3 separate regions of the Homo sapiens genome follow, and regions 2 and 3 are each linked to region 1. A link means that fine-mapping ties the variant in region 1 to the plasma level of a protein whose gene starts in the linked region. Region 1 holds a variant in brackets. A gene starts in each other region. All regions are shown on their forward strands.

Region 1 (4,111 bases):
CCTGTGGATCACGGCAAGCCTTCTTTTAGGGTGTCACCTCATCCCTTTAAGAGCTGTCATCAAATCATCTCACCCACTGGAAGCACATGAAGTTAGGAGAAAGAGAGAGGCTATTTGCTAATGAAGCCAAGTCACGCCCACCCACTGGGAATGTGAAGTGCACATTTTCTAGACATATAACTCTGATACAAAAGCTTTCAAGTCCTTGAGCCAATAATGTACACTTCTAGGATTTTAGTCTAAAGAAGTCATCAGTGGCCAGGCATGATGGCTCATGCCTGTAATTCCAGCACTTTGGGAGGCCAAGACGGGTGGATCGGGAGGTCAGGAGATCGAGACCATCCTGGCTAACATGGTGAAACCCCGTCTCTACTAAAAATACAAAAAAATTAGCCAGGCTTGGTGGTGAGCGCCTGTAGTCCCAGCTACTCGGGAGGCTGAGGCAGGAGAATGGTGTGAACCCAGGAGGCAGATGTTGCAGTAAACTAAGATCGTGCCACTGCACTCCAGCCTGGGCAACAGAACGAGACTCTGTCTCAAGAAAAAAAGAAAAAGAAAAAGAATTCATCAGTGACATTTGACAGAATATATCTATAAAAATGATTTATTATGGATATAAAGAGACCAAAAAAGAGAGATCTGTATGTCCAACAGGAAGGTGTCATTGAATAATCCATGCACATCAGTAAATAGAAAATTGTGCAGACACTAAAAATTGTGTTTTCAAGGAATAATGAATGATATGAGAAAATGCTATTATGGCAAGTGAAAACACACAGGATACAACATCGTATAGTCACAATGATCTCAATTTTTAAATCATATTTAATAGTATTTTAAAATAAGAAAGAAATGCATCAATGTTAACAGTCCTTCTTTCTAGGCCACCACCAGAAAGGGATTATGGGTAATCTCTCTCACTCTCAAAGTATTTCTGTATTTCCATGTTATATATAGAATCATATACCTCCCACAAGCAGAAACTATAACTTTAAGAAAAATGGTTTTTCAAACTAATTTAAGGTTGGCGCGTCAATGAAATTGGGGGGGATCCATTTTTGAAATTAGTTAAAATAAATCCTCTTTCTCTGTGGGCAGCAATATGGCTTTTGTAAGGCAACACTCAGTGAGAAGCTTGGTGGGGCAGAGGTTGCAGTGACCTGCATGGTGTTCCAAACACAGGTAACAGCTCCGTGAATATTCTTGCCTACACCTTCAGAATACAATGACCCCTTCACATTTATGCAGTGCAGTAGTGATGACAGGACATTTGCTCTCCTGTGCTTCTGAATCTCACAGTATGAAATAACACTGGGGTATGCGGAATCATCAACAAATGGAAGGATATTTTAGCTATGCCTTTCCCTCCCACGAACTAGTGACTACAGGGAAGAACCATCTTACTGTGTAGTTGACAAAGCCACCTTTTTATTTGTGGGAGGTGGGAGTGGTTTTCTGAGTTGCAGAGACCAGGTGGCCAGATCTACCTGTTAGCTCCCAGTGGCTGCAGCTTCAGATGACAAAGAGGGTGGCACTGCTGGGCAAGGGTGAGCCATAGGTGGGGTGCTTTTACTCATTGGACATATGCGTGTAAGTCCACCATCACAAAGACAATCCTAGTGAGGCCGGGGCCAACATAGGCCAGTCACCCCTCCTTGTAACCTTGATGACAATCCCTTGTACTTGGGTAGGTCCTTTCTTGCTAGACTCTTTGCAAATAAAAATGTATAATGTGAGGAAATTGGGTGCCAGTGCCACCTGGGCCTGTGGGTTGTCTTGCCTGGGAGGAGGAAGCAAACTAACTGAAGGAAATGGTCCTTTTTCCAGCCCGTGAGCTCACAGCCCCAACCAGAAGGTGCCAATGAAGCAGTCCCCACACCCGTGGTGGACCCAGATGCACCTCCGTCCCCTCCACTTGGCGCACCTGGACTCCCTCCAGCTGGCTCACCCCCAGACTCCCATGTGTTACTGGCAGCTCCTCCAGGACACCAGTTGCACCGGGCGCACTACGACCTG[C/T]GCCACACCTTCATGGGTGTGGTCTCATTGGGGTCACCCTCAGGAGAAGTGTCGCACCCCCGGAAAACACGCACAGTGGTGCAGCCTAGTGTTGGTGCTGCTGCTGGGCCAGTGGTTCCTCCATGTCCGGGGAGGATCAGACACTTCAAGGTCTAGGCTAGACATGGCAGAGATGAGGAGGTTTGGCACAGAAAACATAGCCACCATTTTGTCCAAGCCTGGGCATGGGTGGGGGGCCTTGTCTGCTGGCCACGCAAGTGTCACATGCGATCTACATTAATATCAAGTCTTGACTCCCTACTTCCCGTCATTCCTCACAGGACAGAAGCAGAGTGGGTGGTGGTTATGTTTGACAGAAGGCATTAGGTTGACAACTTGTCATGATTTTGACGGTAAGCCACCATGATTGTGTTCTCTGCCTCTGGTTGACCTTACAAAAACCATTGGAACTGTGACTTTGAAAGGTGCTCTTGCTAAGCTTATATGTGCCTGTTAATGAAAGTGCCTGAAAGACCTTCCTTAATAAAGAAGGTTCTAAGCTGAATGTGGTCATGCTTATTGCGACTTCATCCCAGCTCCCCTCACATGCATAGCCTTTTACCCCAACAAACACAGTGTCCCTAATCAAAATCAAAGTGAAAAGAGAACCAAAAGAGAACAAAAACCTGCTGTATTGCCAGATACAGGAAAAAGTGAGACTAGGATCTTTCCACAACCCATAAGATGTGACCATTTCTTTTTTTTTTTTTTTCTGAGACGGAGTCTTACTCTGTCACCCAGGCTGGAGCGCAGTGGCATGATCTTGGCTCACTGCAAGCTCCACCTCCCAAATTCAAATGATTCCCCTGCCTCAGCCCCCTGAGTAGCTGGGACTACAGGTGCGTGCCACCACACCCAGCTAATTTTTTTTATTTTAGTGGAGACAGGGTTTCACCATGTTGGCCAGGATGGTCTTGATCTCCTCAACTCATGATCCACCCACCTCGGCCTCCCAAAGTGCTGGGATTACAGGCGTGAGCCACCGCACCTGGCCAAGATATGACCATTTCTTTATGAGAAAATAATTCTTCTCATTTTATAAGAGAGAGAAAATATTGCTAAAGGTGGGCCAAGCTCCTGAACTTTGTACAGAATAAACTATCCATTGATTTTCTCCAGTACCGAGGTAAGGAGGGATTGGTAATTAAAACAAGATCCTCACTTTATATCTGTTGTTAATTATGTTTAAGATATACGTTGAGTGTACTGTATACACTTCATTTTATAACACAAGATTGGTCTTCCTAGCCAATCTATTTTAAGGACCCAAGTTAAAGCTGTGACTTGTAGTATCATTAGATAAAGGATGCCTGGACAGGTGAATCCCGTGGACATTTGTAGACACCGTCCAAGTGCTCAGATAGCATATGTGAATAAACCCTCCCCATTTTAGCATGGTCCCTGGGCAATTTCAATTTTTGTCCATCAGCATTAAGTTTTTCCGATCTACCTCAGTGATGGGCCCTTTCAGATGGAATTTTAGAGGGCAGGACTGACACCCAGTTGAGTGACTTCACTTTAAACCAAGGAGAATGAATCAAGTGTTGACACTCACCTTATCACTTGTGCCTAGAGGTTTTGCCAATATTCCAGTAACCAAAAGGAAAGGCCAGAAAGGTAAGAAAACCACTAGGTGTCACGGAAGCCAGAGAAGAAGCTATGGGCAGCTGTGCTAAATGCTGTAGAAAGAGCAGTAAGGACGACTGACTCTGAGGTCATGGTGACCACTGGCAGATGCAGTTGCTCTAGGGGCATCCTGGTTGTCAAGAGTTTACTGGTGTTGTTGCTGTAGGGAGACTGGAGAGTGGGCTGTAGCTGGGCAAGAGTAGCCACAGGATAGAAAGTCACTAGAGCTTTCTAGAGAAAAGATTAACATGAGTTGGTCTAAGGTGGTGGGCAGTGGACATGATAAAAAGAGGTTATAATTTGGAGGTAGAACTCCCAAGACCTGCTGATGAATTTGATATGGGAGTGAGAAAGACGTGAAGGATGATGATTCCTGGATTTGTGGCTTTGTGAACTGGATAGATGTGTGTGTGTGTGTGGGGGGGGGGCA
Region 2 (4,111 bases), not on the chromosome of region 1:
ACCCAGGCTAGGGTGCAATGGCACAATCTTGGCTCACTGCAACCTCCACCTCCCAGGTTCAAGCAATTCTCCTGCCTCAGCCTCCCAAGTAGCTAATACTACAGACAGGCAGTACCACGCCCGGCTAATTTTTGTATTTTTAGTAGAGATGGGGTTTCACCATGTTGGCCAAGCTGGTCTTGAACTCCTGACCTCAGGTGATCCACCTGCCTCAGCCTCCCAAAGTGCTGGGATTACAGATGTGAGCCACTGCACCCAGCCCAAATGAGATGATTTCTGATGGTACACGCTGTGAATGATAGAGATACTGGTGGCATGGAGGTGGGAGGCTGATTTAGAAAGTCCTTCCTGGGAGGTGACATTTTAATTCATACCCCAATGACAAGGAGCTACCCTTCAAGGCTCCAGGATCTACCTTATACTTGGCCAACTGAAAAAGACATTAATGATGATCTGGTCTCAACTTCTTATTTGTAAGTGAGCAAACAGAGGCTCAATGAGATTAAAAGACTAGGACAAGGTTTCCCAAGTGACTGCAATTTGTTTCTTCTTACTATTCTACAGAGACTTTCGATATACACATTTGAAATCTAGGCATCTTACATCGTGTTTTTAACATATTCATGGTTTTTTGTTTTTTAGACAGGATCTCAGTCTGTCACCCAGGCTGGAGTGCAGTGATGCAATCACGGCTCACTGTAGCCTCGACCCCCTGGGCTCAAGCAACCCTTCCATTTCAGCCTCCCAAGTAGCTGACACCACAGACACATGCCACCATGCAGGATTAATTTATTATTATTTTTTGTAGAGACGGGGGTCTCACTTCATTGCCCAGGCTGGTCTCGAACTCCTGGCCTCAAGTGATCCTCCCGCTTGGGCATCCCAAAGTGCTGGGATTACAGGCATGAGCCACCATGCAGGACCACACATTTGTACTTATAATTTTATTTTCAGTACACTCTTGGGGAAAAGATGACAGACCTTCACTTGATCAATAATGAAATTGAGGCTCCAGTTGGCTAAGTAGTTTGTCTAATGGCCTGTCACTAGCAACTGAATCAAAACTCTGATGATTTGTATTCCAGTCCTATGTTCTTTCCCCTGGGGGAGAAGTAGCTGCCTAGCCAGTGGTCTATGAATATAAGACATCATTACCAGCAACTTCACACCCTATGGTGCAGAGAACATACAAAAGTCAAAGATAAGCACAAGTTACTATCATAACACAGAAATTCAAAGACCCTGAGTAATTTGCTGCAGACTTCAGATGACTGGACAATCATGGCCTGAGGCAGTCCCTGCTACCCCCTCTTGCCTTCTAGATACAAGACTGAAAGCTGCCCTGGTGACACATTGCAGAGATTTTAGTAAATAAAGAAGAATGTGTTTCTCAGAGCCAACGCCCAAATCTTCATAGCTGGACCCAACCCAGACCAGGAGTCTTCATAGCGAGTGAACCCTTAGGTAAGTGTCATACTTAAGTCTCATGAGTCTTCTGCTTAAGAAATAAACTACTAGTGGTTCCCAAACCTACCTGCACTGATCAGAATGATTCTGGGAGAGTTTTCAAATAAAGATCTTTCAATTCACACAAGGCCTGGAGACTTAGAAATGCCAAAGGTGAGAGCCTGGGGAATGTATGTTTTAAAATTCAGCCAGCCTGGAAATCCACTGGTTTTTCTCATGTCTTAGTGCTGCAGTGTGATACAGAGAGGAAAGATGCCTGCTTTTATTATCTAGTGGGCAAGCTAAGTTAGGCTGCATCCTTTAAAGGCTGCTTCCAGAAGAGTCTTCTCTGCTACCCAAGGCCCCTGTATCAGTAGGAAGGTCCCGGGCATATCCGCCTGGTTACCTGTGAAGTCAGTTGTCTCACTCCCTTTGGCTGCACATCAAACCCCCACACAACCCCGGGAAGGCTTTTTCTGAGGTCGGTTTACCAATTTCTTTGTGAAGCAGACCCTAGCCTACAAAGGTGAGGGGCATCTCCAGCAGAAAGAATCTCAGAGCGTGGATCATCTCTCACCCCCAACCACCGCCAAAGGGGCCTGGCTGCCTCCCCATGGGACTCTTCTCTGCCCTAGACAGCCAGCTACTGGCTTGGAAAAAGAAAAAGGGAAAAGGAAAAGAAAGAAGGTAGTTCAGGCCCCGGTGGCCAGCACCCTCAAGGAGGACACGAGCAGTTCTTACCTGGAGATGGAAGAGGAGCTGCTCTGTTCGTTCACTCAGGAATTCTGTCTCTGCAGGTGAGCATTAAGCTTGCAACTCACTGGACTTTGAACAAAGATTGATTTAAAAGCTAATGTATTTAACAGGGACATGTGGTCTGAATTCAAGTGACCTCTGTCCTGCTTCCTGCCAGCTGGCTGGGCCCTGAGCTGGAAAATCTGACAAACCTCAGCAAACCAAAAGCTCTGGCCCACCTGCCTGGCCCTGCGGGGAGGCCGCTGCTCGCCAGCCACTCCCAGAGAACAAGGAGGGGAGAGGGGGTGAAGGACAGCCAGGGAGGAGGTGCCTCCGCTTTCCTTGGTACTCTCCCTTTGGCAGATACCTTGGTTACACCCAACCAACCCCCAATCCTGTTAGGATCCTCCAGTCCCCCATCCTGGGGTCAGGGCCGAGGCTCATACAGGAGTATCCTCAATCACTGAGGCCTCCCCAAGGAGCAGTAGCCTATAAAACTCCCACCCACGAGGCCAGTAAGCCCCAGGAAATGGGGCCAAGCACTCAGGGCACCCATCCTGCTTCCCTCTGCCCTGGATTCTCACTTGTGTGCTCCCTAGGAGTTTAGCAAGCAAAGCCCTAGAGCAAGCAAAGCCCTTGTTCTTGTGTCCCAGGCTTCCTTCTTCTTATCCACTCTCTCCCCTCTCTTTTTTTCTTCTCTTTCTCACCTGATGGTGCTCTTTCTATTCTCCAGCCTAGCGATAATTGTCTTCCCCTTCACACACTCAGAGCCTCTCGGGCAAGCCCAGCAGGGTAGGTGGAAGGCATTTTTACAAACCCCTCCATCCTGCTGCCTTGCTGCCCGAGCAGTAGGCTGGTGCCCGTGTGCTCAGCCGCTAGCCCTAGCCATGATCAGCAGCTGATCCCTATCAGCAGCACCCACACAGACAATTCTATCACTGGCCTTCTCACTGACCTGAATCCTCAGCCCACAATGCAAATCAGGGCAAGAGATTGCTCCCGGCACTGAGGCAAAGCAAACCACAGGCCGAGGACTGGGTGACCTCACCCCTCTTCCACCCACACTGGAAGAGCCATTTGTCTTTGCTGGGCCTTGGCTTGGCCCCCAACAAAGACATGACCTGAGCCCATGGATAAACGGTTTAAAATGACATTGAGCAGCTTCCTCATACCAGCTTATCTTCCTCCACCTCGGGGCTAAGCCCTCCTGGCCTCCTCTATATCTTTCAAAGCAGAAGGTAGAATGGGAAAATCTGGATTTAGGATCAGAACACCTGAGTTCATCGCAATCCCAGCAATTTGTGAGGCCAAAGCGGGCAGATTGCCTGAGCTCAAGAGTTCGAAACCAGCCTGGGCCACATGGCAAAACCTTGTCTCTACAAAAGGTACAAAAAGCCAGGCATGGTGGTGCATGCCTGTAGTCCCAGCTACTCTGGAGGCTGAGGTGGGAGGATCACTTGATTGAGAGGCAGAGGTTGCAGTGAGCCGTGATCATGCCACTGCACTCCAGCCTCAATGACAGAGCGAGACCCTGTCTCCAAAAAAAAAACAACAAAACAAAAAAGAAAGAAAGAACACCTGAGTTCAATTCTGACGCCACCATTTCCCATTTCCCAGGTGTTTGATCCAGAGTAATTCATTTTTAACTCTCTGGGTCTCACCTTCATCATGTATAAATAGTTGTTATTGTATGGTTTTTAGAAATTTTTAAAAATTGCTGTTGTTGTTGTTGTTGTTTGAGATGGAGTCTCACTCTGTTACAGCCCAGGCTGAAATGCAGTGGTGCAATCTCAGCTCACTGCAACATCCGCTTCCTGAGTTCAAGTGATTCTCCTGCCTCAGCCTCCCGAGTGGCTGGGATTACAAGTGCCCGCCACCATGCCTGGCTAATTTTTTGTATTTTCAGTAGAGACAGGGTTTCACCATGTTG
Region 3 (4,111 bases), not on the chromosome of region 1:
AGACAGACCGGCAGGGCAGGCTGGCTCCGGGAAGTGAGGCACAGGGACTCCCACAGCCCAGGCCCAGACCGTGGGGGCGGGGTGGCCGCAGCCAAACCAGGCTGCTCCCCACCCCATGGGGCCCCAGGCCACCAGGATCAGACAGGGGCTGTGCCTGCAGGAGGCAGAGGGCTCGGGGCCAGCACCCACTGTGATCTGGCCTGACCCGTCCTTGCCTCTGCCTCTTACCCCGGGCCCTTCTCCCTGGAGAGTGGAGGGTTCCGGCTGTTATATTTGTGCTTCCTCCGGTGTCTGCCTCAAGTCCGGCCCGGGCCCTGACACTGCACCTCTGGCTGACCCCATGCTCTCTGGGACCCTCTGTCCACGTCCCTCCTCCGGGGTGGAGACAGCGGGGGGAGGGCAGGACACAAGAATGAGTCCTGAAGACTGAGGGGCACGGGGAGAGCTGATGGGGAGGGTCTCCTAGCTGGAGGGACTCCAGGCAGAGCCGGGAGCAAGGCAGGTGGCTGAGCTCGGCCCAGGCTGGGTGGAGGCCAGGCCTCCTGTGCCTTCTCCCGCTGATGGCGAGCTGAAGGGAGGAGGGCGGCCGCTTCCTTGAGGGCCTGAGTCACAGCCAAGAAGACCCGCTCACTTTTTCCAGAAGTGAGGGAAACTTCCCCGTCAGCCCTGCAAGGCTGGCTGAGGTGTGACTGTGGCCCGCCTGCTGGGCGAGGGTGGGGGACAAGCGGGCCACTGGCTGTGAGCCTCCCCAGGGTGGGGGACCCTCGGCCCAGCTCCCTGCCTGACTACCTGGACGTGCCTCCGCAGGGTCTGCAGCCAGCTTCCGGTCAGACCCCAGGTCCTCCAGCGGCTGCGGCCTTCAGCGTCATCTCCACGGCAGCCCCTGTGTACTGGGGGCTGGGGGGCCTGGCGAGGCCCCTCGAAGTGGTACAGCTTGCACTCTGGGGACCCAAAGTCCCCCCACCGGGCCCAGGCGGAAGCACCAGGCATTTCTGGTCCCAGCCGAGGTCTGAGGTCTGTGGAGCGCAGCCAGCACCTCCACTGCCAAGATCCCCGGCAGGGGGGGTGGGGGGCGCCGGCGGGGACACAGCTCTCCCTTGTTCCTGCCGCCAGCTCCTCAGCCTCAGCCTGCTGCTTCCTTTTTTAGGCAAAGTCGAGTGCTGGCCGTCCGCACGGCCCCGCGGTGTCTCACCTGCCTGAAAGGGAGGAAGGAAGCCTGTGGAGCCCCATCCGTTCTCCCGCGGCGCATCCTCCAGGAGAGGGTGGGGAAGGAGGAGACATCCTGGCAGACACCCCCCCACGTCCCCCACCTCCCAGCTCTGAGCTGAGGAGGCCCTGGAAGAGGGCCATGGCTACTCCGAGGGAGGGCCGGGGTAGGGTTCTCCTGTCCAGGGGACACTGCTGGCCCAGCCCCACCCAAGCAGGGGAAATCTGCCCTGGGAGCCACTGTCCCTCAGGACGCCCCCTGCAACCAGCCACCTCTCGTCTGGGCCTCACCAAGACCCCAAGACTCAAGAGCTCCTGTCTCACCAGTGGGACCCTCCAGTCCTGCTGGGGGTGTGTCCTGGGTCCTGGAGTCTGGGCCCCTCACTGGGTAGGGTATATGGGTAACAGGCCCAGTGTGGTCCCACTGGACAGGGCCTCAACCAACCATCTCCCACTCCCATGCCTCTTCCTCCAAGAAGCCCAGGTGGCGTGGGTGCTTCGAGTCTCTCTCGAATTCCTGTCTTCTGTCCCCTTTCAAGCCACTGTGTCCTTGTAAGTTCCACCCCATGGTCCTTCCCATCCCTGCTGGTCAGTCCCTGGGATACATGTCCTGTTACTCCAGACACCTATCCGCCTCCAGCGCGGAGGCCAAGGCGAAACCACGGTCTGGACGTGTTTTTTTGGTGCCACCGCCAGCCCCTGGGGTTCTCTTGGGCCTGGCTGCTGGGACCCCAGCACCCAGAGTCACGGCAGTGGTGGGCATGGGGAGGGCCTAGCCTGGTACCTCCCTGCTCGGCTCCCGCGGCTGGGGGTCGGAGAGGGGTGGAGAGCGTGGGCCGCACAGCCTCGGCCGGGAGAGGGAGACTGGAGTGTGTGTGTGTGCGTGCCTGCGCGTGCGTGCCTCGGTCGTATCTCGGCTGGTGCTGCGTGTCCCTGCGTGTCGGGGTCCGCTCGTGCGCGCCTCTCCGGGGTCTGTGCGCGTGGCCCTCCGCTCGCGCCGGAGGGCGTGGGCGTGGCCTCGGCGTGGGTGTGGCCGCTCGGGGAGGGGCCTCCCGGGGGCGGGGCCGGCCTGGTCCGCGCGGTGACGCGCCCTGCAGCCCCGAGCGAGCGAGCGAGCGAGCGAGTTGCCGAGCGCGCCCCGTCCCTCGCGCGCGATGCTCCCCTGGACGGCGCTCGGCCTGGCCCTGAGCTTGCGGCTGGCGCTGGCGCGGAGCGGCGCGGAGCGCGGTGAGTGCGGCGGGCGGCCGGGCCGGGGCTGGGGCTTCTGGTGACCGCTCTGCGCCGCTGCCCGCGCAAGGCCGTCGCTGTCCCCTGCTCCGGACGGGCGGGCGGGCTGGGAGGCTGCGGGAGCCGGGCGGGGGCGCGGGCGGAGCGTCCTGCTCACCTGAGGCTGGCGGCCCAGGTGCTCCAGGCGACACCGTCCGTGAGCGCCGGGGCATAGGGGCCGTCCCGGCCCGCATCTCTGCGGGATCGCGGGCCTGGACAGGAAGAGGGAGATGTCTGTCAAGGGGGCACCCCTGCCTCAGTTTCCCTACCCTTGCGAGGGCCCTTAGTGGAGGGATGGTAGGGAAGTTGGAGTCGCCCCACCGCACTGGGGAAAACCGCAAGGCCGGGACTAGAATTGAGGCACGCTGGTGCCCTGGCTTGGTGGGGAGGGGCGGTGTAGGGGGCATCAGCCTCCACCCCGGAGGTGCCCGGAGGAAGGGGGAAGCCTGCGAGGGGCTGTTCCGGCTTTCAGGCTGCTGGGGGTTATATCTTGTTGTGTGAGTCCAGGTGGGCTGGAGGATGGAGGCCAGGGGAGGGGCCACCATCTAGTAAGCGGGGTCTGGGCTCCAGCCAGGCCATCCGGCGTGGTCATTGCTGTGCCTCCGACACCTTCCCCTGCTGCTGTGTGCATGCCCAGGGTGCCTCACCTGCAGGCTGAGCTGCGTGGCTGAACTCCAGCCTCAGGCTGCTCCTCTGAAAGCCATGCCTGGAGGGAACAGCCCCACGGCTCAGGCCTGTCCTGGGGGCCTAGGCCAGGACTCTTGGCTCCACCTGCTTGCAGGGTCTGTGAGGAATGGGAAGGTGTGGGGGCTTGGAGCGGAGAGTCGCCCTCTCACAGATGGGATAACACAAGCCCAGAGAGAGCCCTAGATCCCATGGCCAGTGTGCAGTGAAACCCCCAAAAGTACAGGCCTCTTGCTTAGAGTTCCTCTTTCCCCCAACCTAGGACCTTTGGGAGAAGGCAAGCATCCACTTAAGGAAAGCTGGGGCCCTGGGGGACCCTGCCTTGCTGTGGGGCTGTCTGGGGGGCCCACACCTGAGGCTGAGCATTCCTCCTTTCCCCCAGGTCCACCAGCATCAGCCCCCCGAGGGGACCTGATGTTCCTGCTGGACAGCTCAGCCAGCGTCTCTCACTACGAGTTCTCCCGGGTTCGGGAGTTTGTGGGGCAGCTGGTGGCTCCACTGCCCCTGGGCACCGGGGCCCTGCGTGCCAGTCTGGTGCACGTGGGCAGTCGGCCATACACCGAGTTCCCCTTCGGCCAGCACAGCTCGGGTGAGGCTGCCCAGGATGCGGTGCGTGCTTCTGCCCAGCGCATGGGTGACACCCACACTGGCCTGGCGCTGGTCTATGCCAAGGAACAGCTGTTTGCTGAAGCATCAGGTGCCCGGCCAGGGGTGCCCAAAGTGCTGGTGTGGGTGACAGATGGCGGCTCCAGCGACCCTGTGGGCCCCCCCATGCAGGAGCTCAAGGACCTGGGCGTCACCGTGTTCATTGTCAGCACCGGCCGAGGCAACTTCCTGGAGCTGTCAGCCGCTGCCTCAGCCCCTGCCGAGAAGCACCTGCACTTTGTGGACGTGGATGACCTGCACATCATTGTCCAAGAGCTGAGGGGCTCCATTCTCGGTATGCGGGAGGAGG

Which allele goes with the higher level. Alleles are on the strand shown, and positions count from the first base shown. The strength of an association depends on the size of the effect and on how common the allele is.
With allele C in place of T in region 1, the plasma level of the protein whose gene starts at base 2,239 in region 2 is lower (weak association).
For the plasma level of the protein whose gene starts at base 2,302 in region 3, C is the low allele of the variant in region 1 and T is the other (moderate association).

The links. PIP is the posterior inclusion probability: the model's chance that the variant is causal. Protein levels are from antibody-based Olink assays in UK Biobank. Linkage for the fine-mapping came from a reference panel and not from the study's own genotypes, which makes the PIPs less certain.
Region 2: PDZK1 starts here. The variant in region 1 is fine-mapped to the plasma level of the PDZK1 protein (UK Biobank, PIP 0.99).
Region 3: VWA1 starts here. The variant in region 1 is fine-mapped to the plasma level of the VWA1 protein (UK Biobank, PIP above 0.99).

The regions. Positions count from the first base shown.
Region 1 is chr3:186,618,759-186,622,869 of GRCh38, forward strand. AHSG (alpha 2-HS glycoprotein) reads left to right here. Exons shown (of 7, transcript NM_001622.4): 6 at 1,099-1,182; 7 at 1,828-2,560. The coding sequence ends at 2,172. Among named protein-coding and RNA genes, the nearest start is that of AHSG, 7.8 kb to the left of the region's middle. The variant C/T (reference allele first, on the strand shown) is at 2,017.
Region 2 is chr1:145,705,130-145,709,240 of GRCh38, forward strand. It overlaps PDZK1 (PDZ domain containing 1), which reads right to left and starts at 2,239. Exons shown (of 9, transcript NM_001201325.2): 1 at 2,188-2,239. RefSeq lists an enhancer at 1,287-2,486.
Region 3 is chr1:1,433,389-1,437,499 of GRCh38, forward strand. VWA1 (von Willebrand factor A domain containing 1) reads left to right here and starts at 2,302. Exons shown (of 3, transcript NM_022834.5): 1 at 2,302-2,433; 2 at 3,539-4,096. The coding sequence starts at 2,361. LOC107985729 reads left to right here. Exons shown (of 4, transcript XM_017003066.2): 2 at 575-683; 3 at 808-1,014; 4 at 1,148-2,161. The coding sequence ends at 1,762. LINC01770 (long intergenic non-protein coding RNA 1770) reads right to left here and starts at 1,185. Exons shown (of 2, transcript NR_125996.1): 1 at 800-1,185. RefSeq lists silencers at 1,061-1,355, 2,102-2,471, 2,230-2,419 and enhancers at 1,213-1,956, 1,216-1,275.